7 separate regions of the Homo sapiens genome follow, and all the other regions are linked to region 5. Evidence: fine-mapped expression QTL. A gene starts in region 5. Each other region holds a variant in brackets. All regions are shown on one strand. Distances are between the middles of the regions.

Region 1 (4,000 bases), 86 kb before region 5:
ACCACTAAGCAAAATCTTATTTTGGACATCAACCACCAGAAACTGAGTTTAAATATGATAATTCACAAAACAACGGACAGATTTTTTTATTATAATTTAAGTTCTAGGATACATGTGCAGAACATGCAGATTTGTTACATAGGTATACACGTGCCATGGTGGTTTGTTGCACCATCAACCCGTCATCTACATTAGGTATTTCTCCTAATGTTATCCCTCCCCTAGCCCCACACCCGTGACAGGCCCCAGTGTGTGATGTTCCCCTCCCTGTGTCCATGTGTTCTCACTGTTCAACTCCCCCTTATGAGTGAGAGCATGCAGTCTTTGGTTTTCTGTTCCTGTGTTACTTTGCTCAGAATGATGGTTTCCAGCTTCATCCATGATGCTGCAAAGGACATAAACTCACCCTTTTTTATGGCTGAATAGTATTCCATGGTGTATATGTGCCACATTTTCTTTATCCAGTATATCATTGATGGGCATTTGGGTTGGTTCCAAGTCTTTGCTATTGTAAATTGTGCTGCAATAAACATACACGTGCATGTGTCTTTATAGTAGAATGATTTATAATCATCTGGGTATATACCCAGTAAGGGGATTGCTGTATCAAATGGTATTTCTGGTTCTAGATCCCTGAGGAATCGCCACACTGTCTTCCACAATGGTTGAACTAATTTACACTCCCACCAACAGTGTAAAAGCATTTCTATTTCTCCACACCCTCTCCAGCATCTGGTGTTTCCTGACTTTTTAATGATCGCCATTCCAACTGGCGTGAGATGGTATCTCATTGTGATGTTGATTTGCATTTCTCTAATGACCACTGATGATGAGCTTTTTTTCGTATGTCTGCTGGCTGCATAAATGTCTTCTTTTAAGAAGTGTCTGTTCCTATCCTTTGCCCATTTTTTGATGCAGTTTTCTTCATGTAAATTTATTTAAGTTATTTGTAGATTCTGGATATTAGACCTTTCTCAGATGGACAGATTGCAAAATTTTTCTCATTCTGTAGCTAGTCTTTTCACTCTGATGATAGTTTCTTTTGCTGTGCAGAAGCTCTTTAGTTTAATTAGATCCCATTTGTCAATTTTGGCCTTTGTTGCCATTGCTTTTGGTGTTTTAGCCATGAAATCTTGGCCCATGCCTATGTCTTGAATGGCATTGCCAAGATTTTTTCCTAGGGTTTTTATGGTTTTAGGTCTTATGTTTAAGTCTTTAATCCATCTTGAGTTAATTTTTATATAAGGTGTAAGGAAGGGGTCCAGTTTCAGTTTTCTGCACATGGCTAGCCAGTTTTCCTAACATAATTTATTAAATAGAATACCCTTTCCCCATTCCTTGTTTTTGTCAGGTTTGTCAAAGATCAGATGGTTGTAGATGTGTGGCATTATTTCTGAGGCCTCTGTTCTGTTCCACTGGTATATATATCTGTTTTGGTACCAGTACCATGCTGTTTTGGTTACTGTAGCCTTGTAGTATAGTTTTAAGTTAGGTAGTGTGATGCCTCCAGCTTTGTTCTTTTTGCTTAGGATTGTCTTGGCTATACGGGTTCTTTTTTGGTTCCACATGAAATTTAAAGTAGTTTCCTCTAATTCTGTGAAGAAGTTCAATGGTAGCTTGATGGGGATGGCACTGAATCTACAAATTACTTTGGGCAGTATTTTCATTTTCACGATATTGATTCTTCCTATGCATGAGCATAGAATGTTTTTCATTTGTTTCTGTCCTCTCATTTCCTTGAGAAGTTGTTTGCAGTTCCCCTTGAAGAGGTCTTTCACATCCCTTGTAAGTTGTATTTCTAGATATTTTGTTCTCTCTGTAGCAATTGTGAATGGGAGTTTGCTCATGATTTGGCTCTCAGTTTGTCTATTATTGGTGTATAGGAATGCTTGTGATTTGTGCACACTGATTTTGTATCCTGAGACTTTGCTGAAGTTGCTTATCAGCTTAAGGAGATTTTGGGCTGAGACAATGTGGTTTCTAAATATACAATCATGTCATCTGCAAAAAGAGACAATTTTACTTCCTCTCTTCCTATTTGAATACCCTTTATTTTTTTCTCTTCCCTGATTGCCCTGGCCAGGGCTTCCCATACTATGATGAATAGGGGTGGTGAGAGAGGGCATCGCTGTCTTCTGCCGGTTTTCAAAGAAAATACTTCCAGCTTTTGCCCATTCAGTATGATATTGGCTGTGGGTATGTCATAAATAGCTCTTATTATTTTGAGATACGTCCCATCAGTACCTAGTTTATTGAGTGTTTTTAGCATGAAGAGGTGCTGAATTTTATCGAAGGCCTTTTCTACATCTATTGAGATAATAATGTGGTTTTTGTCATTGGTTCTGTTTACGCAATGGATCACGTTTATTCATTTGCATATGTTGAACCAGCCTTGCATCCCAGGGATGAAGCTGACTTGATCATGGTGGATAAGCTATTTGATATGCTGCTGGATTCAGTTTGCCAGTATTTTATTGGGATTTTC[A/G]CATCAATGTTCATCAGGGATGTTGGCCTGACATTTTCTTTTTTTGTTGTGTCTCTGCCAGGTTTTGGTATCAGGATAATGCTGGCCTCTTAAATGAATTAGGGAGGAGTCCCTCTTTTTCTATTGTTCAGAATAGTTTCCGAAGGAAACTCCTCTTTGTATCTCTGGTAGAATTCAGCTATGAATCTGTGTGGTCCTGGGCTTTTTTTTGGTTGGTAGCCCATTAATTATTGACTCAATTTCAGAACTTGTTATTGGTCTATTCAGAGATTCATCTTATTCCTGGTTTAGTCTTGGGAGGTGTATGTGTACAGGAATGTATCCATTTCTTCCAGATTTTCTAGTTTATTTGTATAGAGGTGTTTATAGTATTCTCTGATGGTAGTTTGTATTTCTGTGGGATCAGTGGTGATATCCCCTTTATCATTTTTTATTGTGTCTATTTAATTCTTCTCTCTTTTCTTCTTTATTAGTGTGGCTAGAGGTCTATTTTGTTAATTCTTTTCAGAAAAACAGCTCCTGGATTCATTGATTTTTTTTTGAATGAATTTATTTTTTGAATTGGTTTTTCATGTCTCTATCTCCTTTCGTTCTACTCTGATCTTAGTTATTTCTTGTCTTCTGCTAGCTTTTGAATTTGTTTGCTCCTGCTTCTCTGGTTCTTTTAACTGTGATGGTAAGGTGTCAATTTTAGATCTTTCCCGCTTTCTCCTGTGGGCAGTTAGTGCTATAAATTTCCCTCTACACACTGCTTTAGCTGTGTCCCAGAGATTCTGGTACATTGTGTCTTTGTTCTCATTGGTTTCAAAGAACTTTTTATTTCTGCCTTCATTTCGTTATTTACCCAGTAGTCATTCAGCAGCAGGTTGTTCAGTTTCCATGTATTTGTGTGGTTTTGAGTGAGTTTCTTAATCTTGAGTTCTAATTTGATTGCACTGTGGTCTGAGAGTCTGTTATGATTTCCATTCTTTTGCATTTGCTGAGGACTGTTTTACTTCCAATTATGTGGTCAATTTTAGAATAAGTGCGGGATGCAGTGCTGAGAAGAATATATACTCTGTTGATTGGGGTGGAGAGTTCTGTAGATGTCTATTAGGTCTGCTTGGTCCAGCGCTGAGTTCAAGTCCTAAGTATCCTTATTAATTTTTTGTCCCATTGATCTAATATCGAAAGTGTGGTGTTAAAGTCTCCCACTATTATTGTGTGTGAGTCTAAGTCTCTTCATAGGTCTCTAAGAACTTGCTTTATGAATCTGGGTGCTCCTGTATTGCGTGCATATATATTTAAGAAAGTTAGCTCTTCTTGTTGCACTGATCCCTTTATCATTATGTAATGCCCTTCTTTGTCTTTTTTGATCTTTGTTGCTTTAAAGTCTGTTTTATCTGACACTAGGACTGCAATCCCTTTTTTTTTTTTTTTTGCTTTCCATTTTCTTTGTAAATATTCCTCCATCCATTTGTTTTGAGCCTATGTGTGTCTTTGCACACGAGATGGGTCTCCTGAATACAGCACACC
Region 2 (4,000 bases), 110 kb before region 5:
GTACAGCAGCTTTATTTATACTTAGCAAAACTGGAAAGCAATCAAGATGTCTTTCAGTAGGTAAATGAATAAATAAACTGTGGTACCTTCAGACAAGAGATTATTTAGTACTAAAAATAAATGAGCTATCGATGCATGAAAAGACATGGAGAATTTAAATGCATACTAATAAGTGAAAGAAGAAAACCTGAGAAGACTTCATACTGTATGATTCCAGGTATATGACACTTCTGAAAATGTAAAACAGGACTGTAGAGGATTTTCCGTGTAGTAGAAATTATGGTATATGATACTACAGTGGTGGATGTACTGTCATTATACACTTGTCCAAATCCATGAAATGTATGACACCAAAAGTGAACCCTAATATTAACTAGGGTCTTGAGTGATAATCATATAGGTTCATCTATTGTGACAAACATATCACTCTAATAGGGGATACTGATAATTGGATAGGCTATGCATGCATAGGGGAAGGGAATATACGGGGGATCTCTATACCTTCCTATCAGTTTTACTGTGAACCTAACACTGCTCTGAAAAATAAAGTTTATTATTTTTTAATAAATAAGGTATGGTCATTCTATTAAAAATGACTTCCATAACAACCAATTATGTCAATACAATGTTTGCTATTCTTTATAGTATTAGGCAAAGTCAAGAGACTGGCTGCTAAAGGTGAACACCTATAAAAGGCATACAAAAAGGGAAAAACCAAAATGTACTTAGAAATTAAGCTCACTCTTCAGCTGTAACTAATATTAAGGTCTTTCTGCTTAAGAGTACAATGTACATTCCTGAGTATAACTTAAGGCTATAAACTGAGGTTTAAAAAAACAAAAATTATGTGTGAAGTGTGTATAAATGTAGAAAAATTATCAAAATAATCAAGACTGCATATGTGTAAGTGAGAGGAGACAGCAGGGAGGGTACATCAGTGATTGTAAAGCCTTCCAGGTAATAACCATAAGGAAAGCATCCATAGTTCTGGGCTAAACTGAACTGTGAATCTGCACTTAGTATTTCTACTTCTCCTACTGACTCAATATATAACCTAGGCAAGTCATGTAATCTCCCTGTACTTCTTTATGTGAACTGGAGTCTACTCAAAGGGTAACTGGCTATTTCACAGGGAACTATACTTTAATCTGCACTTTACTGCAGTGTCAGAAAGGTGAATAAAATGGCAGAATCCTTTCATGAATTTTCTGTTTCAAAGACAATAAAAATCTGGGGCCAGGCACGGTGGCTCACACCTGTAATCCCAGAACGTAGGGAGGCCGAGGGGGATGGATCACTTGTGCTCAGTTTGAGACCAGCCTGGGCAACATAGTGAGAACCTGTCTCTACAAAAAATAAAATAAAATAAAAATTAGCCAGGCTTGGTGGCACTCAAGTCCCAGCTACTCAGGAAGCTGAGGTGGGTGAATCACTTGAGCCCAGGAGGTAGAGGTTGCAGTGAGCCAAGATCACACCACTGCATTCCAGCCTGGGCAACAGGGCAAGATCATATCTCCAAAAAATAATTCTGTTTTCAACTCTACTTACAATTTGGCAAGAAACAGAAAAAAAGTACTGTAATTTCATGTATTGTTTGCGTAAAATATTAATACAATGACATTTTGCAAAGTAAAAAATGTTATCCTAGGTGTTAATTTCTTAGTAAGTCTTCAAAGCACACTACCACCAAATGGATGCTGAATGAATGAAATGAACTTTACAGTCTCTTCCAAAACTC[A/C]AGATTCTATGATTGTAATGTAGGCTATGCAAAATTTGATGAGGCAACCCCACATTAAAAAATGCCAAAAGGGTTTACTTTAGAATAAAATATTTTAAATATTTAACGGACAGAAACACTAAAGTTTCTTGATTATATACTTCTGATATAAATTACTGAAAATCTGTAAAAAGAAAATACTTACAAAGTTGTTATTTGTATGTAAGCACATACTGAAAGATAGGAATACATCGACAGAAATGCTCCTAAGCTTAATTTAGTAAATCATACATCACATTAAAACAATATCCATTAATTTTTAGGCTTTGTTCAGTGTCTTACTGATAAATTTGAAAATTAGTAATATGATGTCCTTTATATAGGAAGATAAAGATTCATCATTTAGAATATACTATATTAGTTATTTTTCCAATCATTATATAGACTGTGAAAAGCCATTCATATACACATAGTTAGTATTTCTGTGACTAACAGCATAAGGGATGTTTGAATATAAGCACATACTGCACACAGCCTTAAATAATAAACATTTTTCTTTTTTTAAAAAAAAAAGCACCAGTAAAACATTAACTCCATAATCCTGACTCTTTAATATCATGTGATAATAATCTACATTAACCAAAGCAGGAATCACAGAGTTAACAGATTTGGCTATTACTTTTTTTTTTTAACATATTTATTTTTCCATAAGTTACTGGGGTACAGGTGGTATTCGGTTACATGAGTAAGTTCTTTAGTGGAGATTTGTGAGATTTTGGTGCACCCATCACCCAAGCAGTATACACTGCACCATATTTGTAGTCTTTTATCCCTCACCCCCTCCCTCTCTTCACCCCAAGTCCTCGAAGTCCACTGTATCATTCTAATGCCTCTGTGTCCTCATAGCTTAGCTCCCACAAAACAGTGAGAACGCACAATGGTCGGTTTTCCATTCTTGAGTTACTTCACTTAGAATAATAGTCTCCACTCGTTGGTTGATGGGCATTTATTTGGGTTGGTTCCATGACTTTGTATTTGTGAATTGTGCTGTTATAAACATGCGTGTTTGCAAGTGTCTTTTTCAAATAATGACTTCTTTTCCTCTGGGTAGATACCCAGTAGTGGGATTGCTGGATCAAATGGTAGTTCTGCTTTTAGTTCCTTAAGAAATCTCCACACTGTCTTCCATAATGGCTGTACTAGTTTACATTCCCACCAGCAGTGTAGACGTGTTTCCTGATCACTGCATCCATGCCAACATCTTCTGTTTATTGATTTTCTGATTATGGCTGTTCTTGCAGGAGTAAGGTGGTATTGCATTGTGGTTTTGATTTGTATTTCCCTGGTCATTAGTGATGCTGAGCATTTTTTCATATGTTTGTTGGCCATTTGTTATATTTTCTTTTGAGAATTGTCTATTCATGTCTTTAGCCCACTTTTTGATGGGATTGTTTTTTTCTTACTGATTTGAGTAATATTAAACAATACTGATTCTACCCATTCATGAGCATGGGATGTGCTTCCATTTGTTTGGGTCATCTATGATTTCTTTCAGTAGTCTTTTGTAGTTTTTCTTGTAGAGGTCTTTGACTCCTCAGTTAGTTATATTCCTACGTATCTTACTTATTTATTTTTTGCTATTGTAAAAGGGGTTGAGTTCTTGACTTGATTCTCTGTTTGGTCGCTGTTGGTGTATAGAACAGCTACTGATTTGTGTACATTAATCTTGTATCCGGAAACTTTGCTGAATTCTTTTACCAGTTCTAGGAGCTTTCTGGAGGAGTCCTTAGGGTTTTCAAGGTAAACGATCATATTGTCAAACACTGACAGTCTTTCTCTTTACCAATTTGGATGCTCTTTATTTCTTTCTCTTGTCTGACTGCTCTGGCTAGGACTCCCAGTACTATACTGAAGAGGAGTAGGGAGAGTAGGTATCCTTATCTTGTTCCAGTTCTCAGAGGAAATGCTTTCAACTTTTCCTCATTCAGTATTATGTTGGCTGTGGGTTTGTCATTGATGGCTTTTATTACATTATGGTACGTCCCTTGTATGCCGATTTTGTTGAGAGTTTTAATCATAAAGAATGCTGGATTTTGTTGAATGCTTTTTCTGCATCGATTGAGATAATCATGTGATTTTTGTTTTTAATTCTCTTTATGTGGTGAATCACATTTATTGACTTGTATATGTTAAGCTATACCTGCATCCCTGGTGTGAAACCCACTTGATCATAGTGGATTATCTTTTTGATATGTTGTTGGATTTGGTTAGCTAGTATTTTGT
Region 3 (4,726 bases), 210 kb before region 5:
GGAGACTTAAAAAAACTTTGTCAGAATTGTCCCACATCAGTGAGGAAAGCCTGTTTGTAGGCAGTGTGTACAGGAGTGTGTGTGTGTGTGTGTGTGTCTATGTGTGTCTTTAATCAAGATACTCTTTTCAGCAGGAAATTAAAATCTTCTGGGTAATGAGCTCAGAAAATCTATACACACTGAACATATATTTCAGTATAAGAATGTTGTTGATGTCTCTCTGGAGCACTTCATTTTGACCCTATCACATAAAACAACTCTGAAATTGCTAGGAATGTAACTGTTTTCAGTCTTGCAGCATCAGTACCCAGAAGCATGTGTAGGTCAACTTCATGACTATCATAAATCTCTTCACAGCAATGCGAGAACTTGCTCTAGCCTTCTGGAGGGCAGAAATCTGGGTCTCTGGCTGGTTATAAGGCTTTTATTCTCATGTTTATCTCCTGGATGATGAATAAAAGGATCAGTGACCTCAGGAGATACTCCCTAGAAGGGATGTGGCTATTCCCTAATGGAATTACCAAATACCAGCATAGCTGGCTAAACCAGTTTGAAAACTACTTTTGTACAACTTTAAGTTTACAATTATTTTAAGAATTTAGATAGTACTGTGCAAATAAATGGAGAGAGCCCAAGGCAGAAAAAAACTACATACTCTATTAATTCATTCATTCAGTATTTCTAAAGCACCCCAATGTTCGTAGAACTACTTGCAGCAGCATGAAAGAGAGTAAGAAGCTGGACTGCAAAGTAGAACACATGGTCTGGAATACACAAGTCACCTTTTCTCTGATCAGCTGGAAATTACTCTGCTCCTCTGTCAAAGCATAAACACATTCTTGGGATGGAGAGGAATGCTGGAGCTTCCAAGGTTGATGTGTTAAAGCAGCCTTATCCAGGGGACAGCAGCTTTTTCCTTTGTCCCCTTATGTAGTCTGGTTGAAACTGCAGAATAATTTGAAATGTGGACTAAAAATAGTGCACAAAGGAAACTTAGAAATCTCAGAAGGAGAGATGAGGAAAGGCCTTGAGAAATCACTGCACTCCTTGCCTTACAGCAAGTCTATATTTATCATAGATTTAAAAAACTTTATTATTGACTTTCCTTTAAAGTTTTGGGTAGAATGTACAGTGTTTTTAATTTTTATTTGCCAATTAAAAAAATACAAACATAAGTCAGAAAAAAATAAATGCAACTATTAAATTTACTATTAACTGCTTTCCTTTACCTAGATTTTTTGAAGGAAAAATCTTTAAAAATCATTAAAAAATCAGGTTCTCATTAAAAGATGCTAAAAATGACTGAACTCTGGTTTCACTAAAAGAAGATTATTATATATTCATTATTTTTCCTGCCTTGGAGATTGAAACAGTCTCTCTAAGCCTCTAGCACCATCTTCCTTACAGATTTGTTGACTGGACTGGCTTCACCTTTCCTGTCTTTGCAGACTACTTCTTTTGAAATAAAAATCAGTAACTTTCCATTTCAAATAAAACAAAGTAGGCTATGAAAACTGCCATCATTTAGATTTGGATTGTAGGCCTCCATAACAGCTAGTACAACCTTATAGTTCAGAGAAAAGCAAAAGAGCTTCAAAAATACTTCAGGAGTGTGCATATGGCGAGATGGGAGCAATGGTTAAAAATCCTTAAAATTCTCCAAAATTAAAAATGCCATTAAGCTTTACTATAAAATACCTCAAATTAATGTGTTCCTAATTTTAGCATTAAATGAAGCTGGTCTATTGAGTAGGACTATTTGCATAATGATGGCAAAAAAAAAATCAAAGTTTTAGGGAAGCAAAATTGATCAGAAATTTAAATTATAATTCCTGAGTAGCTTCTGACTAATGCATCTGAATAAATCAGAACCATCCCAGTCCTCTTATTCAACAGTAGAAAAAGAATTATGGAAAGACTTTGGGGGAAATTTACAATATACCCTTATGGTTTCTCAAAACATTTGTCTCAAAATAACCACACTGAAGGAGGGAGGTGAATATAGGTTCCCAGTAACACTGAGAATTTAGCCTGAATTCGCAGGCTGCAAGCACAAAGGTTTTGTTCTGTTTTTTAAGGTTTCCCATTTCCTCTTTAACATTTATATGCATTTTGCCATAAAATGTAAATCTCCATTTTAAAATATGTTGTACATTACTGGCCAATTATAATAAAATTATGTTGCCACCATATTAGTTAGGCTACAGGCAAACGTGCTGTGTATAGCCTAAACTGACCCCAAATTTAATAACTCAAACAAGATATTTTATTTCTGTCAAGGGCATGGAGACAGCTGTGTTCTATAAGTATATTCAGGGACCCAGGTTCCTTCCATCTTGTTGCTCCCTACCTCTTAAGCATTAGCATTCTTGTCTGCTCAAAGCTGACTCAGCTCCAAATCTGGGTTTCAATCACAGAAAG[A/G]GGAAGACAACTGGAGATGAATGATCACTTCCATTCACAATTCATTAGCAACACTTAGTTCCACGGCTGCAGTAGCTGCAAAAGAGGATAGAAAATGTAATTTCTTCTACTTCTGGCAAAAAGTAGAAGTGATGCTATTGAAATATATACAACGTCCATCTTACGACTTTTTGTGTTCCCTACCAACTACTTTATTTCTCTAGGGATGCTCCGGTTTAGAGAGCATAGTATAAAGCAGGGTTCTGCATCCTTTCTTTCTATAAAGGGCCAGGTTTTAGGCTTTGTGGGCCATATGGTCTCTGCTGCAACTACTCAACCCTGCTGTTGTTCAAAAGCAGCTACAGACCATATGTAAACAATTGAGCATGGCTGTTGTTTTAGTTATCTATTGCAGCGTAACAAATTACTACAAAGTTAGAGGTTTAAAACAACAGAGTTATCATCTCACAATTACCATGGGTAGAGTTCAAGCATAGTTTAGTTGGGTCCTTTGTTTAAAATCTCACAAGGCTGCAATAAGAGTCAGTTGGACTGTGCTCTCATCCAGAAGCTTAACAGGGAAAAAAACAAAACAAAGCCAAACAAAAAAACGACAAGAAAACCCATTTCCAGGCTAATTCAAGGTTGTTCGCAGAATTTATTTCATAGAGGCTATAAGGCTAAGGGCCTCAATTTCTTGCTGGCTGTTCTCCCTCAGCCCCTAGAGGTCACCCTCAGTTCCTTGTCATGTAGCCCTATCCGCAGCCTCTCTTATAACATGGTATTATTTCTTCAAAGCAAGGAAGGGAGAAAGTCTCAAGAGTGAGTTTGGTAGCAAGACAACTGTGTTCCAATAAAACTTTATTTACAAAGACAAGTGGTGGGTCATGTCCATCATTTGCTGATCCTTGGTATAATGAATAAAGTGTAGAAGACATTATTTACGGTAAGAAGAAATCAAAGTTCACTGAGTAGAGAAAAAGATTTCTCAGAGCCAGAAGAGCCACGTGGAAAGGTACTCAGAAGAAAGTATTTTTTTCATTCTGGTCCCATAATACATGTATTACCTCATTTTTTAAATAAAAAATAAAAGCAGAATTGGCATTGTGTTAGAATCTGTGATTATAAAATGGAGTTGTTATTAGAATGCCAAATAAGTTTAAAGTGAAGGGGCTTCATAGCAAGCTTTCTACAATTTTGACTCTAATTCAAACTTCACCTGGAAAAATTTCAACAGAGAGTCTGCTTATTTTCTTAATGATTATAAAAATGTCAGCTAATGCTTATTATATGATTGAGATTCAAGGATTATGCTAAATGTTTAACATGAATTTCACTTAATCTTCAAAACACTCATGTTAGTTAGATTATTATTCCTATTACAAAGATAAGTAAAGTGAACTTTCACAAATTAACTTGCTCAACACACACACACAAAGTAGAAGAACAAGGATATAACCTTTGCACTGTCCTGAGAAACCAGATCGTTAAATTTTACTTAATGTGTAATAGGATCCTTTGAAGGGTTTTAGGCAGGGAGATGGTATAATTAATAGGTTATTTTTTAAAAATTAGCTCTGTACAACGACTGGACTGGAGGAGGGCTAGAATGGAAGAAAGGTGGTCCAGGGCAAAGTTGATGGCAGCTTGGACAGGGTAGTGCCCTGGAGATACACTTGCAATACATTTTGGTGGTAAAAACGACAAAACTTGTAAGAGAATGGCTCCCTGTCTACCTAATTGTAGTGCACTCCACTATGCCATCTGTTCACTACACTCTAGCCACACTGACCTTTTGGTTCCTGAAATGCGCTAAGCCTTTCCCATCCTCTGAGATTTTGCATGGGCCATTCTCTCTAGAATGCCTGTCACTCTATTCTACTATTGTGCCATCTTAACTCATCATATTGGACTCAGCTCAAATCTCACTCCTCAGAGAATCCTTCCTTGATGCCCCAGTCCAAGTTTGGTTCCATCATTAATTTTCTCTGAATAGAATCCAATTATATTTTGTCCCATATTTGTTCATTTATTCCATATTTGTTTACTTTTCACTAACACATTACATTTCAAGAGGCCAAGAACTAGTTTTGCCTATCACTGTAAACATGGTACCTAGCATACACAGTTCCTGCCACCATATTCACCATACTCAGCAGTGATTACTTGTTGAATAAATAAATGCCTGACTTCGAAGCCCTTACACTTGAATACTGAGTTATTGGCTCTCATATTTGATTTTTAAAGAGATTTCCTTTTCAATCCTTCTATAGTTATCAAAGTGACATATCTCAATATGTCCCATCACTCTTCCTAAACAAACACT
Region 4 (4,726 bases), 220 kb before region 5:
AAAATGAGCAAAGTATTTGAAAAGACAATTCTTAAAAGATATATGAATGAACAATAAGCACATGAAAAATTGTTAAATCATTAGTCATCATGGTAATGCAAATCAAAACACACATCTTCTAGAAAGCTAAATTAGAAAGACTCACAATACCAAGTGTTGGTGAGGATATGGATCATTAAGAACCCTCATAAAAGCATGGTAGGAATGTGATATGGTACAATTATTTTGGAAAACAGTTTAGCAGTTTCTTATAAAGTTAAACACCTTCCATACGACTCACTCTACTCCTAGGCATTTCTATAAGAGAAATGAAAACATGTGTCTTCCAAAAGACAGAAACGAATTTTCACAGAAGCTTTATTCATAATAGCCCCAAACTGGAACGAATGCAAAAATCCACCAATAGATAAACAGACAAATATTTTGTAATATATTCATATAGCAGAACATTATTTGGCAATGAAAAAGAACACACTTTGGATACACACAACAATGTGGATAAATTTCAAAAATACACTGAAGAAGCCAGACACAAAACAGTACATACAGGATGCTTCCCATTAACATGAAGTTCTAGGACAGGCAAAGCTAATATATGTGTACAATGACAGCACATCAGCTGTTGTCTAGGGATGGGGTAGAAGAGACTTACTACAAAGGAACACACAGAATCTTTTGAGATGGTGGAAGTGTCCTTTCTCAATTTTGGTGGCAGTTACATGAATCTGTATAGACATTTTTCAAAACTTACTGAACTGCACAGTTAAAATGATTCATTTTATTATATGTAAATTAAATCTCAGCAAAGTTGACTAAATCTCAGTCTTTCATATTTAGTTTTCAGAGAGACAGCTGGATTTTAACATCCAGGATGATGCATTGCAATGGAGCAAGCTAAGCCATTCTAAGGCCTGAGCCTTACTCAGCTGCTAGACCAGAGTCCTGGGACTACCTTTCTCTTAAACTCAGTGACATCCAAGGTCCAGAAGTCTACTATTCTGAATCTCTCTGTAACAGAATCCTATATTGGTTATTAAGAGAGGATGGCAAGATTTTGACTAAAATAGAAGTCTCAGAAACACTCATTCTATTTTATGGAATTAGGTGTTGCCCAATTTAAAAACGAACAAAAAGAAGTTGCACGGAGGGCTGCTGTATTCCCAGAGTTTAGCAGTGTCTCTTAAATGAATAAAACAAAAGTAAAAGAAGAGTATTCCTGGAGAAAACCTTAGATCTCTAGAACAGTATATGTGCAAGGAATGAGAGACACAGGGAAGAAGAGAGAAAGAAAAATAGTGGCTTTGTTGAAAACCATCAGGCCAGAAAGCATCTCAGGACTGGCTCTTAGAGCAAGCCCAGCCTACAAAGTGTATAGCCTAAGTAAGTATGTCCAAGTCCTGGAAGTTTGCTTCCTCACTGATTTAATAGAGCCATCCTCACTGCAGCAAATTCCCCAGTGAGGGAAATTTTATTTCCCATGCACCTGCAACTCCCAATTAGATGTATTCAGCTAGAGGTGGTCTGAAAAGTATAGCTCTCATTTCACAGGAACTCCTTGCAGAGCATCTGGCCTCTGCTAAGACACTTACAGGCTGGTCCATTTTCTCTGGACCCACGTGTCTCTTGCTTTCCAGCACAGAGGCGTATGCACATCTCAAATCAGTTAATCAGCATGCACTACTTCCCAATGACAGCCAACAAAGACATTCTAAACATGGTTTGGCTTAGTTCATACAGACCTTGCTACATCTACATTCATCTTTGGCTCATATGTGACCCATCTGTTGATGAAAAATTACAGTGTGTCACATACACCCATACATTCATTGTAGGATTCAGGCTAGAAGTCATGCTTTTGGGGATGTGTCAGAGGAATATGTGGAACAAATTCTGTTGGTTCTTCCCCACTTAATGAAGGATTCCATGCCTTGAATCCCTGGAAAAACATCTGACCAGAAATAGGAAAATGTCCTGATAAGTAAACCAACATGATAAATGAAGATCATTAGCATAATTAAGCTACAGATTTTGGAAAGGAGTGCTAGAGAGGCTTTACATATGGGTGTGAGACTACATTAGAGAAATGATGGATACTTTGAGCAGGGGTAGGACAGGTAACATTTTGCTTTGCCTACAAGGCTTGAGATACTGTGGTTTAACAGGTCACTGATTACCTTGAGGGGCGTCAAACCCCAAATCTAGCATATTTGACAGACTGCTAGCTGTTTTCCAAAAGGTAATAGCATTGGCAGGGGAATTTCTTGGATCCCAAACATGGACTCCTTTAGAACTACTAGGTAAAGGATAACCACATTTTAAGGTATTTTTTTTAACCACTTCCCGAAAT[G/C]GCAGTTTGCATTACCACCCCTTCCTGCCCCACTTGGAGAAGCAATGCAATATGTAATGTCAAGAGTTTAGACTGAGGATTATAGAATCTGCTCTCTACTCTTGGCTCTGCCAAGAAGAGGGCTACATGACATGGGACAGGTCATTTGTCCCCTCTGAGCCTCAGAAGTGATTAGAGTACTCTGTATTTCCCTGGTTCTTTCTGGGTCTTTCTGTGTTGTTTTCATTCTTTCCTTCTGAATGTTCCCTTTGCTTGTCCTCTAACAGCAATGATTCACTCCGCCTCCCAGTTGGGGCCAATTCTGCTGTTTGACCTGCAGTTGGAGCCAGTGCTGCTTATCCCAGTCAACATTATTGATCAACATTACTGAACAAATAAGTGATCACATACATGAACAAATTTTTGACTCTTTCCTCTCAGCATGCTGGACCTCTCAGTAGGCTGTTATTACATCTCAACAAATAGGGGTGTTAAAATTAACTTAAATTGTGCTCAATTAATCAGAACTTATTCAAGACTTTTTGTGTGTCAGGCATTAAAATAGGCAGGTGCTTGTAGTGATGTGAGATATATGATAAAGTCCTACCCATAGGAAACTTTACCTTGTCTGTGACTTCACACCAACATTTAGTGAGTGCATCAACTGGGGTCCAATCAGGAGACAGGAACCAAACAGTGATTTAAATAAGGGAAGCTTAATATAAAGAATGATTAAGCTGGCTATGCACGGTGGCTCACACCTGTAATCCCAGCGTTCTGGGAGGCCAAGGCAGACAGATCACCTGAGGTCAGGAGTTCAAAACCAGCCTAGCCAACATGGTGAAACCCGTCTCTACTAAAAATACAAAAATTAGCTGGGCACAGTGGCACACACCTGTAATCCCAACTACTTGGGAGGCTGAGGCAGGAGAATCACTTGAACCTGGGAGGCAGAAGCTGCAGTGAGCCAAGATCACGCCACTGCACTCTAGCCTGGGCAACAGAGTGACAACCTGTCTCAAAAAAAAAGATTAAGCTATAAGAAAACAGTAACTATAAGATGTAAGAGAACTTTATAATGTTCCACAGGGCTGAGGGAGAGTGCTCAAGGAAGGATGGAAGGGGATCTTTCCTCAAGGCTCAGGTTCTTATCTGGTTGCAGAAGGTCTAGTTGCACTTCAATGGATGGAAGAGAGGTTTGCTGGCTTGCTCATGCCAGAGCTGGTTAACAGTCACTGAGTAAGAAGAAAGCTACTCTCTAGGAAGTACATGAGCCACAGCCAGATTGGGTATGCACAGATACTTTGGGACTATCACTGTTGGGTAGAAGGCTTGGCACTCCTAGTGTCCATGTCAGGAGGGCAAATCTGAGTGGCAGGGTACAAGTGAGTCACAACTGGTGAGGCAGGTGAGTGGGCATGCAGAGGGGCAAGAGGGCTAGAATTTCTAGTGTCTGTGTTGGGAGGGCTATGAGAAGGTGATCACTAGGATAGGTCAGGGCTGCAAGCTTACCAAGGGACTGTGTGCTCTGGCTGGGGCACAGTACCACCAGATGCACTCACACTCATACCAGTGACCAACAGTGCAGCTGCTGGAGCCTACAAGAGAAGTCCCTTCCTCCTGCAATATCCCTCCAGCACCCTCTACTTAGAAAGCTTAATATGGTGCTCACATAAAGGAGGACAGCTTAAAGGGATTCCAAACATTAACGGCAGAGAGAGAACTCAAGGGAAAATTTGGAGGGACAAAAATTGATAATTGGCACAGTGAAGTATTAAAAGAGCCTTAAACTAGGGATTAGACATTCTGAGTTCTAGTCTGAGTTCAGCTGTGTAATCTTAGGCAAGTGATTTAGGTGTCTTCGTTTTAGTTTGTTCATTTAGAAAATGGAAATAACACTTGTTCAATTAACTAAAGAATAATGCAAGGATCAAACGAGAACAAGCATATAAAAGGATTTCTATAAACTGTAAAGTGCTACACATTTCCAGTGGGTCATTGCTGTAGTAGTTGTATTCAGTTTTACACTTACCATCAAGCTGAGTAATGTTTAGCCTAGAATTAAGGCCAAAGAGATGAGCCCCTATCTTATTTCGAATCCCTGGCACCAAGCACACTTACTTAAACAAAATAAATAGGTTTGTCTTTCTTACTAGAACTACAGTTTAAAAAACTTATTTCTTGATGGATAGTCTCGTGAAGGTATTGCTGTGTCTACTCAATTATGACTAACCATAGTCTCTCAAGGGTGGCCCACACTAATCATTCTCCATTTTTCATCTTACCAGAATGCTGCTGGTGGAGTCAGCAGGAAAAGCCTTTCTGCCCCTGATCAACCTCTACCTGAGGACCTAAGGCAATGCTTTTATTGTAGATCCTGATATGCAAACAGAACTACAG
Region 5 (4,597 bases):
TATAATCCCAGCACTTTGCAAGGCCAGGGAGGACAGATCACCCGAAGCCAGGAGTTCCAGACCAGCCTAGCCAACATGGTGAAACCCCATCTTTACTAAAAATACAAAAAATTAGCTGGGCGTGGTGGCGGGTGCCTGTAATCCCAGCTACTCAGGAGGCTCAGGGAGGAGAATCGCTTGAACACAGGAGGCGGAGGCTGCAGTGAGCCGAGATGGCGCCATTGCACTCCAGCCTGCGCAACAAGAGGGAAACGCCCTCTCAGGGAAAAAAAAGAGAGAGAGATTAGCCCGCCTCAGCCTCCCAAAGTGCTGGAATTACAGGCATGAGCCACAGCACCTTTCCTGTAATAATCAACTTTAAATGATGTGATGAGAACAATTCTATACTGCACCATATTGGATACAGTTTACTGATGTAGCGGTGTTCCCCAAGACACTGGTATGAGGAAAGAAACTGGCGATCAGAACCAAAGTGAGGCAGGAAAATAGGGTCAGGAGGCTGGGAACATAAAGCTGATTCCCACTTCAGCTATGACAAGAAATGTCCTCTCCATATGGCATAGGCGGAGAAAATGACTTTGTAACTTTACTTCATCCTCTTCATTTACATAGGGAGTACACCAAGTAACCAATGGAATCCTCTAGAGGGTATTTAAATTCCCAAAAATTCTGTAGGGGCCCTTCAGCCCCTATGCTCAAGCAGCTCCCACACTGTGGAGGGTAGTTTCATTTTCAATAAATGTCTTCTTCATTCTTTCCTCGCTTTCTTTGTGCGTCTTCTCCAGTTCTTTGTTCAAGACGCCAAGAACCTGGACACCCTCCACTGGTAACAAAAGGAATCCAGAAAGAAGGAAAAACTTTAAAATAACTCTTTTCTTCTGAAAGATTTCTACCCAATCCAAGCACAAAGAAATTACTTCCGAACACTATTTTGCCTATATACTTCAGTACTTTTTCTGTATCCACACGCTACCTGCACTATTGCTTATTTTTTCACAAATTGAGTCTTTTTTTACTTAAATAATGTTAAAGGGGAGCTTTATATCACTACCATGGACAACCAACTTTATCTACCATAAGTAGAAATTAACTAAAAATCTGTTTAAAATGCAAATAAAAGCAAATGCTACCAAAGCCAGGCTAGATTCTTCTACCAACCAAAAATTCGGTCCCCTATTCGATACTGATTTAAAAGGGGTATTAACACATGTTGGCTATTAAAGACCCTCCAGCAGCAGCGTGAGCCTTTCCCACCAGAGTGTCTGAACCGGAACTGAAATCGGAAACGGAATACCGTTCCACGTGATTCGGCAGCACTGAAGGCAGCACCCGGGAACTTCTGATACCAAACTCCGCGAACAGTGACGCAGACCCCACGCTTGCAGACCACACGCTTCCGTACAGACCTCAGCTGCCAGGCGCACTGTGAGCCCCACAGGTGGACCACCGTGACTGTAGAGGCGCTACACGGCCCCACGCACTCCGCAGACGCAGCGTCGCAACCTCGGCAGCCCACCCCACCCCACCCCACTCAACCGGGCCCGCCGCGGCGCCCAGGCGGCAGGCAGCAAGGACAGCCTTGTGCGAGCCCGATCTGGGCCTTCCTGGGCGCGGCTACCGCAAGAGCTTAACGGATCAGCTACCTGGGGCTCTCCCGTAGGATCAGCGCCGCGGGGACCGCCATCTTCGGCTTTCTCGCACTGCCGCCGTCTGTTAGCTGCGCCGAACCCAGCCAATGGCGGCCGCGGCGGACGGAAAGCCGGAAGGCCCAAGCCGCGCAGGGGCCGTTTTAGGGCTCCGGGTCTCCTGCGACCCGGGCGCCGGGAGACTTGTCCCGCAGTCCTGGAGGGCGGAGAGGGCAGCCCAGTTGCCCTCCCGACACTCCAATCGTGTTGGAGTTAAGTCTGTGCATATATATGTCTTTATATTTATATATTATATATGTATGTACATACCTGGATAGGGGTGTGTGTCTGTATTTAATAGGGCAGGTTTAAGCAAGTCTATGTACAGACCTGTATAGATATATGTGTGTATGTTCGTGCATAAATATATACATTATTATTTTTAATAGGGCAGGTTTAAGCAAGCCCGTGTATACATACTTGGATAAATGGTGTGTGCGTGTGTATATTTTTTTAATAGGGCGGGTTTAAGTGAGCCTGTGTGTACATACTTGGATAGGTGATTTGTGAGTATTTTTTTTTCCAGCGTTTGGGCTACAGAGAGGCAGGCATTTGAGCGAGCTCCCCCGAGCCTGCCCAGGAAGCGGCGCATCACCCCTCAGGAGAGGTGGTGCCTCCAGTTCCACCCTAAGCACTGTGCCGTCAACCCCTCCTGTATCTGCATCTGCAGGGCTTGTAGTATGTACGTTCAATTCCTTCAGCAACGTTCAATGAATGAGTGCCTACTGTGTACCAAGCACTGTTCTAGGCACTGGAGATACAAAAGGCCAAAATTCCTGCCCTCAGGGTTTGCCGGCAGTCTAAATGGACAAGTATTTGTTGCACCCTTCTTTAGAGTCTGACAGTGCAGAGTAGGGGAGATGAATCGCTGCAGTGAGTGATGTCAAAGACCTCACCCAAGACTAGGGAGACACCATGTTTGCATAAATACCTTGGTCTGCCTTTGAGAAAAACATGGAGTGAGTTAAAGGAATTCAGATGTGGGAGCAGTGAAAGGCATCCGAGGTAAGATCAGGAAAAGCTCCCTAGGGCAGGTGGCAAATGCGGTGGGTCTGCAGAGATGTGGAGGGTGAGGCTGTGTGTTTCAGGTCAGTAGAGTAGAAGGGCGGTTTGACGTTTGAAGAACAGGAATTTAGACTAGAAAAAGCCTTTAATGACTGGTTGTGGCATGTGCACTTAATCTGGTGAGAAATGGGTAAGCATTAAATGTTTTTTCTATCCATTAAATGTTTTGAACCAAAGAAATTTTGCAGTGGGAGTTGGATTTTTGAAGGTTGCTGTCAGCAGAATGATGATTGAAATGGAAAGAGGTAAGCAGGAGAGCTACCTGGAAACTACTGCAATAATCTATAGAAAGCAGTAAAATCCTGTGGTACTAAAAAGGCATTGGTGAATTAAAAGATAGTGGATGGATTAGTTACGTTTCAGCAGTAGAATATTCAAGAGCTGCCAAAAAATTGAATTTAATTTTCCTTCCTAATTATGTTTTACTTAAATTATTATTTAAATTAGTTGGAGTTCCTGGAGCAGCCCAAGAACAACCTAACTGAAAGGAGAAACCAGATTGCACATTAAATCTGAATAATCTCCACATGGATAATTGAGTCAATTATACAGTGTGTTGAACACATACAAATACATTTAGTTCCACAACACTCTACAGTCCCCAATGTATGCATATCTGAAAAAGATGTATGTGAATCTACATAAATTATAGGTCTCTGATCCAAACACAGATGACCTCATCTGCAACTTAAAAGGGTCCCAGTTCCCTCATTCTTTGAATCATTTCCCTTTTGTCTTGATTCCTTACCTGAAGTAGAACCACTAACCAACTAAAACTGTTTCAAATCCCTAATGAAGTTCACCCTCTGATTGCCTTAAAAATATATAGCCAGAATTTTGAGCAAAAGAGCATCAAGATGGCTCAAATCCCAAATCCATGTAACCTTGGACAAAGTACTTAACCTCAACAAGTTTCTCATTCCCAATCTGTAATGGGGATGAGAATAATGTCTGCTCCCTTGGATCTTAATGAGATTTAAATAATGTGGTACGTATGTAAAAGAAACATTCTACCCTCCTTAGAAAACAAAACCCAGACCTCTTAGGTGTTCACAAAAGCAAGTCTCCAGTGGACACAGAGGCGACTCACTCTAATGCTCTTCATTTTCAATGATGGGCTGATTACTTCTTATTACCATGTTTCTATAAAGGCGTGATGCTGTGAATAGTTTCACACCTCAAATGAGAACCTCACCCAAGATATTTCTGCATTCTCTGGAATATAGACATCTATGTCCATGAAAAGTCCTTTTAGTTGTCTGCTATTATTGTGTGGGAGTCTTAAGTCTCTTCGTAGGTCTCTAAGAACTTGCTTTAGAATCTGGGTGCTCCTATATTGGGTGCATATATATTTAGGATAGTTAGCTCTTCTTGTTGCATTGATCCCTTTACCATTATGTAATGCCCTTCTTTGTCTTTTTTGATCTTTGTTGGTTTAAAGTCTGTTTTGCTAGAAACTAGGATTGCAACCCCGGCTTCTTTTTGCTTCCCATTTGCTTGGTAAATATTTCTCCATCCCTTTATTTTGAGCCTATGTGTTTCTTTGCACACAAGATGGGTCTCCTGAATACAGCACACCAATGGGTCTTGATTCTTTATCCAATTTGCCAGTCTGTGTATTTTAATTGGCGCATTTAGCCCATTTACGTTTAAGGTTAATATTATGTGTGAATTTGATCCTGTCATATGATACTAGCTGGCTATTTTGCCCATTAGTTGATGTAGTTTCTTCATAGTGTCAATGGTCTTTACATTTTGGTCTGTTTTTGCAATGGCTGGTACTGATTTTTCCTTTCCATATTTAGTGCTTCCTTCAGGAGCTCTTGTAAGGCAGGCTGGTGGTGACA
Region 6 (4,000 bases), 28 kb before region 5:
CACTGGGACCAGTAGCCCCACTCTCCCATCATGGCAGTACTTCAGCAAAGGTGTTGTCACCCCTCATGCAAGCATTTCATAGGACAAGCCCAGGCTTTCCCAATCCAGATTTACCCAGCTTTGCCCTACTCTCTGAGACACAATGCAGGATCTGGACTTCTGGAGGTCCCACAGTCCAGCCCACTGCCTGAGACACCCAAGCACTTCTCCCAGGGGACAGAGTTTGGGCATAAAAACCCTGCCATTACTCTCTCGGTTGGTTTCTATCTGCAAGTGCCACCCAGCCTGGAGGTCAGCCCACACAGCCAATTGCAATCACTCCCAACACAAGGGCACTGGGGAGAGCATCTTACCACTACTGCTGCCACCATTACTGAGGCCACCCAGCTACCCAAGAGCTCATGAGCCCACTCACTTGCCCAGTACACTGCTACCACAACTGGTATCCAAAAGAGCCACCCAGAGCCCCCAATAATCAGCCTGCATGGAACTGCCAACTCATGTGCCAGCACACACTGCCCTAGATATAGACCTGCTTAGACAACCACTGCTACCACTGAAACCTGAAGAAGGACCTATCAAGCATTCCAGTCCCTAGCATAATTTCACCACATCCTCCATCAAAACCCACACCCTAACACACAAAGGAATCCACAGATACCAATAACAATATTTATAGCCAAGAATATCATAAAGTATTCACCAATGCGCACACCCAGAAATAAAAACAAGTGGCCCTACTCAACCAACATCGAAGTCACATATAAAGGAGCAAAGTCTACTCCAAACAAAAGTTAAATTGAAAAAAAAAGCAATTGTTCCAGATGTGCTAGAATGAACATAAAAACACAAGAAACATGAAAACGCATGGCAATATGACACCATCAAAGGAACACAATAATTCTCCAACAATAGAGCAGAACCAAAAAGAAAACCTTACAACCCCAAAGAATTCAATATTTTGATTTCAATTAAGTTCAATGAGATACAAGAGAAATCTGAAAACTAATACAAAGTAATCAGAAAATCAATTCAGGATATGAATGAGAAATTTACCAAGGAGATAGACGTCTTTAAAAAAATCCTGGAACTAAAAAATTCACTGAAGGAGATATAAAATACATGGAAACTCCAATAATAGACTAGGCCAAGCAGAAGAAAAGATTTCAGAACATGAAGACAGGTCTTTTCAAACAGTGCAGTCTGATAAAAATTTTAAAAATAAGAAAAAAATGAACAAAGCTTTCCAAGTGTTTAGGACTGCATACAGCATTGAACTTATGAATTACTGGTATTCCCAAAGGGACAGAAACATCAAAAATCTTTAACAAAATAATAGATTGAAAAACTCCCAAGGCTAGCAAGAGATACAGACATAATAGATACAGGAGGCTCCATGATCTGCAGGCAAATACAACATAAAAGGGACTTCAATACAACATATTATAATGAGTGTCTAATGTCAAAGTGAAAGAACAAATTCTACAATCAAGAGAAAAGTGTCATCTATAAAGGAAAGTCCATCAAACTAACAGCAGACTACCCAGCAGAAACCTTACAAGGCAGGAAAAAATGTGACGACATAATCAAAGTGTGAAAGAAAACAACTGTCAGCCAAGAATTGTATATCCAGGTAGTATTAAGCTTCATAAATAAAGGAGAAATAGTCTTTCCCAGACAATCAAATACTGAGGGAATTCATGAAAACTAGACCAGTCCTACAGGAAATGCTCAAAGAAGTCCTAAACTTGGAAGAGACAGGACAATATTTATCATTGTGAAAACACACAAAAATATAAAATACACTAGTAAAGATATCATACAAAGAAGAAGAATCAAATGAAACCATTACAGAATTCCAACAAACCATAAATTTAGACAGACAAAAAACCCAAAAGTTTACAAAATGATGAAAAAAACAATATGACAGGAACAAAATCTCATATACCACCTCAAACATAAATGGATTAAATGTCCTACTAAAAAATACACGTTGGCTAAATGAATAAAAAAAATCAACTATAGGCCATATAGCGGTGGCTCATGCCTGTAATCCCAGCACTTTGGGAGGCCAACACAGGCGGATAATGAGGTGAAGAGATAGAGAACATTCTGTCAACATGGTGACAGTCTCTACTTAAAGTACAAAAATTAGCTGTGCATGGTGGCGC[G/T]CACCTATATACAGTCACAGCTACTCAGGAGGCTGAGGCAGGAGAATTGCTTGAACCTGGGAGACGGAGGTTGCAGTGAGCTGAGATCCCGCCACTGCACTCCAGCTTGGCGACAGCACGCGACTCCATCTCAAAAAAAAAGAAAAAAAATCAACTATATGCTATTTACAAGAAACCCACCTTATCTGTGAAGACACATAGACTAAAAGTAAAGGGGTGGAAAAAGATATTGATTGATATTATGGGCCAACGAAAATCTAAAGCAAGCAGAGGTAGCTATATTTTTATCAGATAAAGCATACTTTAAAATAAAAATAGTAAAAAATAATGAAGTCATTATCAGTCAAGAGTTCTACATCGAGAAATATCAAGCTCCATAAATGAAGTAGAAATAATCTTCTTTCCCAGACAGATTATTAACAGAATACTAAGAGAATTTGTCAAAAGTAGACCAGCTCTACAAGAAATGTTCAAAGGAGTCCTAAACTTGAAAGAGACAGGGCAACCCCATCAAGAAAACACAAAAGTATAAAACCTGATATTAAAGGTGTCAGTTCTACAAGAGGACATAACAATTCTAAACATACATGCACCCAACATTTGAGCACCCAAATTCATAAAACAAATATTACTAGACCTAAAGAGAGTTAGACAGAAAAACAATAATAGGGGACGTCACCATCTCACTCACAGCATTAGACAGCTCACTGAGACATAAAATCAACAAACATCAGACTTAAATTGGACTTCAGACAAAATGTACCTAACACACATTTATAGAACATTCTATCCAACAACTGCAGAATAAATACTCTTCTCATCAACACATGGGATATTCTCCAATATAGACCATATGTTATGCCACAAAACAAGCCTCAACAAATTTTTAAAAATCAAATCATACCAAGTAACTTCTCAGACCACAGTAGAATAAAACCAATACCAAGAAATCAATATCAAGAAAAACTCTGGAAACTATACAAATACAGAAAAATTAAACAATATGCCCCTGAATGACCTTTGGATCAATGAAAAAATTAAGGAGAATTAAAAAATTTTATGAAACAAATGAAACTGGAAATACAACATACAAAAACCTGTAGGACACAGCAAAACCAGTGCTAAGAAGGAATTTTGCAGCAATAAATACCTGCATCAAAAAAGTAGAAAGATTGCAAATTAACAACCTAACAATACATCTAAAGGAACTAGAAAAGCAAGAACGAACCAAACACAAAATTAGCAGAAGTAAAGAAGTAACATGGATCAGAGCAAAACTAAATAAAACAGAGACCAAAAAAAAATTAAAAAATTAATGAAACAAAAAGCTCGTTCTTTAAAAAGATAAGCAAAATTGATCAAGTGCTAGCAAGACTAACCAGAGGAAAGAAGATCCAAATATAATAAGAAATCAAAATGGAGACGTTACAAATGATATGAGAAAAATTCAAAAGATCATCAGAGACTATTATGAACAACTACATGTTCATAAACTAGAAAACTTGCAGAAAATAGGTAAATTTCTGGAAACATATAACCTGATATAGTTTGGATGTATGTTCCCATCCAAATCTCATATTGAAATGTAATACCCAATGTTGGAGGTGGGGCCTGATGGGAGGTGATTGGATGATGGAGGCAGGTTTCTCAGGAATGATTTAGCACCACCCCTCTTGGTATTGTCCTCACAATAGTGAATTCTCTTGAGATCTGGTGGTTTAAAAGTGTGTAGCACCTCCCCCCTTCCTCTCTTGTTCCTGCTCTGACCATGTGATGGGTTTGCTCCCCCTTCACCTTTTGCTATGATTGTTTTGTTTCTCAAGGCCTCC
Region 7 (4,726 bases), 370 kb before region 5:
GTTTCTCTTCTTATTGTTTTGAGCAAATACTGAGCACCATTATAGATTTATTTTTGTTTGTCTGATAGATGCTACTATTAAAATTCTTTTATATGATTGGAGATAGAATTTATTTCCATGACTTCAAAAGCAAGGGTGATAGTCACTCTAAAGATTACCTCCCAAGTTTAGAAGTTCATTTAAAAATAGCTCTACAATGTATTGAAAACCCATTTATTCAGCCATCATTTGTTGAGTTACCCAACTAAGAGCTCTGTGGATGGCAAGGGTTATAAATGCCGAAAAAATGTGGTACTTGCCCAGGATTTGCACTCCACTGAGAATCCAACTATAATTGCCAACATTTTCCACTTCTGTTGTTTTAATTATTTCAAAATTCAGTAACTATAGGCATCCTGAAACAGTATGCATTCCCTTATATTGCTTCGAAATCTCATATCACCTTTTTGACTACATTTAGAAGGCACGAAGTTTGGACCTGGAAGCACAGGTCTACTCCTCTCCCATGGGAGACCAATAGCAAATGGAATCCAATGGAGCAGCTGCGACTATCACTTGGAAGCCCTCTGTGAGCCACTAACCCACCACTTCTCCTTTGTGGCTTCTTTTGAGCTTTAGATTTGTCCAGCAAACTACAGCATTTAAGCTCTTTCCTATTTTTTATTTCCTTTGATTCTTGTAACAATCCAGTAAGGCAGTAAGATTAGGTGTGTTCACCTCATGCTACAGATAAAAAAACTGAGGCCCAGAGATGTTAAGTCACTTGCCAAAAGGTCACCCAGCCAGTAAGTGGGAGCCTGCAATTCCAAGCCCACTGAGATCTTCTCTAGCTGCTTTTATCACCACTACTGACAAGTCTGCTGTTTCCAAGCCTTCACAATGGCTATTCCACAAAGTTGACTTGATCATTTCTGTGAATGCTTCTTTGGCCTTTTTCATGATATAAGCAGAAAGCTTTAAGTTTGAAAGGCATTTCCAAAAATAACGTTTACCTTATCTTCTTCAACTGCACTTTCAACTTACTCTCTGATCTGTTTCCATCTTTGGACGTTTCTGAATTTACACAAGCAGATGAGGAAAGCCCTCTGCCTCCCCATGGATAGATGAAGACATGCAAAAATGTTTTTAAGGCCACTCTTTATATAACAAAATGAGACGGGGGAAAAAATCTGTCTGAGATACCATTTTCCTGAAAGGTCAGATCCTACTTAACTTGTTAACAACCAAAAACCTGAACTCAAATATCATCCACTAAAAAAGAGTTCTTCCCAGTGAAAGAATAAGTAGCTTTCATGAGTCTAAAATAGCCAAGGACCTTCAGACATGAAAGAAGAATGATATTTGGGAGCTAAAAGTAAGGCTAAGAAGCAATGGATACATGTGAAAAATTTGCAGTTTTCCCAGTGAAACCAATGAATTGCTCTAGCTTTACTCTTTCCACGTTCCTTTTAAACTGAGAGGGCAGTTTAAATTGTAGAATGCCAAAGTCAATTGTAAATAGCTTCCTATTATAATACACATTTATTGGGAATATCCAGTCCCCCTAAATTTGGTAGCCTGGAAGGGTTTCATGAAATACTCATTGCCATGAAAAAAACACCTAATACACCCCCACCCCATTACTGGGGCCGTCTAGCCTGTGTTCAACTCCCACTGAAATCACCAAGTCAATGAGAGAAATTAAAACCATTTTATCCACAGGTGTACATTTTTGTGCAATTATATGTAGGGGGTTAAAAACGGTGTTCGGTAGAACCCCATACATAATCAAAATTGAAGAAAAATCAGTAGCTATTTTAGCATAATAAGGAAATGCAAATTTAAGAAAGAAAATTTTCATTAGCACATTTCCTTGGTGAATAGGTACTAAAATATATTTGAATGCAGGACACCCCACTGTTTGGGGAGCTTCACACATAAAAGGTGTGAGTTACAGCCAAATTTCCGGCTGTTTTTTGCTTCTCAGTTTCTACCCCTTAAAAGCTGATGGAGATAAATCTGGAAATATTTGAAAAGTATCACATTTGAAAATTATTTGATATCTTACC[G/A]TCTTGTACACTCTTTCCTTATGGTGAATTGCCTTGACTGCCTTTTATTACCAAGGGTATTTGTTGGATCACAGAATCTTTATTTCTTAAGAGATATTTGCTGCTTCTACTTAAGTCACAATCCTTTGTCACAGGACAATCATTTCCACAGCAACCAACTGTGATGTCACAATTGAAGGGAGGAGGACCCTTAGGAAGGAAAGAAAAAGAGAATGTACTTTTCAGGCTAAGGTTTCTGGGTTTTAAAACCATCACTTCAGAAATCAAAATATTTTAGCAGAAAAACCCCCATGAGAAAGCTTCAAGGTCTCGGCTGTGACAAAGACAACATTTCAGTAGAAGTTTAAGGTTGCGTGTTGTGGGCTTGGGAAGGGGTAGAGATCTTTATTTCCTTTCATTCTAATTCTGTGCCACTGATACCTGCCAGTAAAATACATGAAACATATTCCAGAAAGAGTTGATTTAGTAGATGAAAAATGCGTCTCCCGAGACCAGAGAAGGTACCTTTTCTGTCTTGCTATCATTTCCATAATAGGAACAATGTTTACATTTCCTCAGCCCATGCAGTGCCTCTAATGTATTCATGTTCTTTCACTCTCCAGAGGCAGGAATTGAGGTATTAGAGATTTTATTTTTTAGCGACTGCATCAAGCACTTAAGATCTGACAACTGTGATGTGTATTCTCACTTGGTATTAAAAAATAAAAGCTTCTGTGTTTGCATTTGATTAGAGTCACTCAGCTGGGTGGCTGATTAAGCAGGAATAGCGAAAGCACCTTCCTTCAGAAACACTGAATCCTGGTTAATGTAGTGTAAGATTACGGATGGGTGTAGTCACATAATTTTTATTAAATTGAAGAGATTAGCTCTGCTGAAAAATCCCACTGTGACAGCAAACTCTAGGTGCAATAATGGTACCTAACACTTCTCAAACCCACTACAGGGCCCCAAATGGTCTTATTTCTGAATCTTCTTTCAGTTCCAGTGAGAAAGCTTCATTCAAATATTCAGGATAGTTACCTGAAATTGAGTTTGCACTGTTTTTTTTTTTTTTTTTTTTTGAGAGGTGATGCAAAATCAGCACAAACATTTGTAGTCTGTGAACTTTAGCTATATTCTCTCAGTGTAAATAAAAATGACACACACTCTCTTTCCTCTAGTTGCTTAAAAGGCAAACACTTTTCCCCAGACGGAGGCTCCGGTGGCCACAAGGGGGCCGTCGGAAAAGATCCCAACTGGAAGCCCAGAGTGTGTGATTTGTTTGTCTAACATGCATAAAATTGTTGCCTCTTCCTCCAGACTCAGGATAACTTGGTTATCCCAGTTCTAGGAAGGGAAGGTTAAAAAGCCATAAAGAAGGAAAGAAAGATAACTTTTGAAAGCCAAAACCTCCCATATTCCCTGGAGTGAAGCAGAGTAGAAAGTGCAGGTACTGGAAAGAGTGAACAGCACTTTTCTTTCTTTCTTTTTTTGAAACGGAGTCTCGCTCTGTCACCCAGGCTGGAGTACAGTGGCCTGATCTCCCTTCACTGCAACCTCCACCTCCCAGGTTCAAACAATTCTCTACCTCAGCCTCCGGAGTACCTAGGATCACAAGCCCCCGCCACCGCGCCTGGCTAATTTTTTTTTTTTTTTTTTTTTTTTTTAGTAGAGACGGGGGTTTCACCATCTTGGCCAGGCTGGTCTTCAACTCCTGACCTCGTGATCCACCCGCCTCGGCCTCCCAAAGTGCTGGGATTACAGGCGTGAGTCACCGTGCCCGGCCTGAACAGCACTTTTTTAGACAACAAAGAAGGCTACAAATGGAGTCCATTTACATACTGCACACGAGGGGCTTGGGGAGGATTAATTGGTTAATGTTTGGCAAGCTGAGCTTGGAAGACAAGTTGTGCAGAGGTGCTGTTGTCACTTACTACTGTTATTAATTAACAAGGTGAATGCCAAGCAAAAACAAGCCTCGGGGTGTGCTTTCATTTCTTAACGCCATATGCGATGTCTATTGCAGGAGTGATTCGGGAAAGTTACCTCAAAGGCCACGACCAGCTGGTTCCCGTCACCCTCTTGGCCATTGCAGTCATCCTGGCTTTCGTCATGGGGGCCGTCTTCTCGGGCATCACCGTCTACTGCGTCTGTGATCATCGGCGCAAAGACGTGGCTGTGGTGCAGCGCAAGGAGAAGGAGCTCACCCACTCGCGCCGGGGCTCCATGAGCAGCGTCACCAAGCTCAGCGGCCTCTTTGGGGACACTCAATCCAAAGACCCAAAGCCGGAGGCCATCCTCACGCCACTCATGCACAACGGCAAGCTCGCCACTCCCGGCAACACGGCCAAGATGCTCATTAAAGCAGACCAGCACCACCTGGACCTGACGGCCCTCCCCACCCCAGAGTCAACCCCAACGCTGCAGCAGAAGCGGAAGCCCAGCCGCGGCAGCCGCGAGTGGGAGAGGAACCAGAACCTCATCAATGCCTGCACAAAGGACATGCCCCCCATGGGCTCCCCTGTGATTCCCACGGACCTGCCCCTGCGGGCCTCCCCCAGCCACATCCCCAGCGTGGTGGTCCTGCCCATCACGCAGCAGGGCTACCAGCATGAGTACGTGGACCAGCCCAAAATGAGCGAGGTGGCCCAGATGGCGCTGGAGGACCAGGCCGCCACACTGGAGTATAAGACCATCAA

Which allele goes with the higher level. Alleles are on the strand shown, and positions count from the first base shown. SD is a standard deviation of normalised expression in the study named. Not every link is listed here.
In carriers of allele G in region 4, the expression in fibroblasts of the gene that starts at base 1,712 in region 5 tends to be lower than with C alone (small effect, 0.24 SD a copy in GTEx).

The links.
Region 1: its variant is fine-mapped to the expression of COMMD10 in whole blood (INTERVAL, PIP above 0.99).
Region 2: its variant is fine-mapped to the expression of COMMD10 in whole blood (TOPMed, PIP above 0.99). The same link has a PIP of 0.9 or more in blood mononuclear cells.
Region 3: its variant is fine-mapped to the expression of COMMD10 in whole blood (TOPMed, PIP above 0.99). The same link has a PIP of 0.9 or more in blood mononuclear cells, hypothalamus, lung, monocytes and skeletal muscle.
Region 4: its variant is fine-mapped to the expression of COMMD10 in fibroblasts (GTEx, PIP 0.92).
Region 6: its variant is fine-mapped to the expression of COMMD10 in whole blood (TOPMed, PIP above 0.99). The same link has a PIP of 0.9 or more in lung.
Region 7: its variant is fine-mapped to the expression of COMMD10 in whole blood (TOPMed, PIP above 0.99).

Annotation. Positions count from the first base shown.
Region 1 is chr5:116,168,064-116,172,063 of GRCh38, reverse strand. The region is part of intron 5 of COMMD10 (COMM domain containing 10); the gene reads right to left. Among named protein-coding and RNA genes, the nearest start is that of COMMD10, 85 kb to the right of the region's middle. The variant A/G (reference allele first, on the strand shown) is at 2,486.
Region 2 is chr5:116,194,916-116,198,915 of GRCh38, reverse strand. The region is part of intron 5 of COMMD10 (COMM domain containing 10); the gene reads right to left. Among named protein-coding and RNA genes, the nearest start is that of MIR12130, 59 kb to the left of the region's middle. The variant A/C (reference allele first, on the strand shown) is at 1,739.
Region 3 is chr5:116,296,017-116,300,742 of GRCh38, reverse strand. No RefSeq gene overlaps it. Among named protein-coding and RNA genes, the nearest start is that of MIR12130, 43 kb to the right of the region's middle. The variant A/G (reference allele first, on the strand shown) is at 2,422.
Region 4 is chr5:116,304,022-116,308,747 of GRCh38, reverse strand. No RefSeq gene overlaps it. Among named protein-coding and RNA genes, the nearest start is that of MIR12130, 51 kb to the right of the region's middle. The variant G/C (reference allele first, on the strand shown) is at 2,348.
Region 5 is chr5:116,082,140-116,086,736 of GRCh38, reverse strand. It overlaps COMMD10 (COMM domain containing 10), which reads right to left and starts at 1,712. Exons shown (of 7, transcript NM_016144.4): 1 at 1,644-1,712. The coding sequence starts at 1,684. RefSeq lists enhancers at 1,171-1,465, 1,759-1,918.
Region 6 is chr5:116,110,719-116,114,718 of GRCh38, reverse strand. All of the region lies in intron 4 of COMMD10 (COMM domain containing 10), which reads right to left. Among named protein-coding and RNA genes, the nearest start is that of COMMD10, 28 kb to the right of the region's middle. The variant G/T (reference allele first, on the strand shown) is at 2,172.
Region 7 is chr5:116,447,139-116,451,864 of GRCh38, reverse strand. SEMA6A (semaphorin 6A) reads left to right here. Exons shown (of 19, transcript NM_020796.5): 19 at 4,054-4,726. It overlaps SEMA6A-AS1 (SEMA6A antisense RNA 1), which reads right to left and starts at 4,367. Exons shown (of 3, transcript NR_109879.1): 1 at 4,074-4,367; 2 at 2,048-2,237. The variant G/A (reference allele first, on the strand shown) is at 2,049.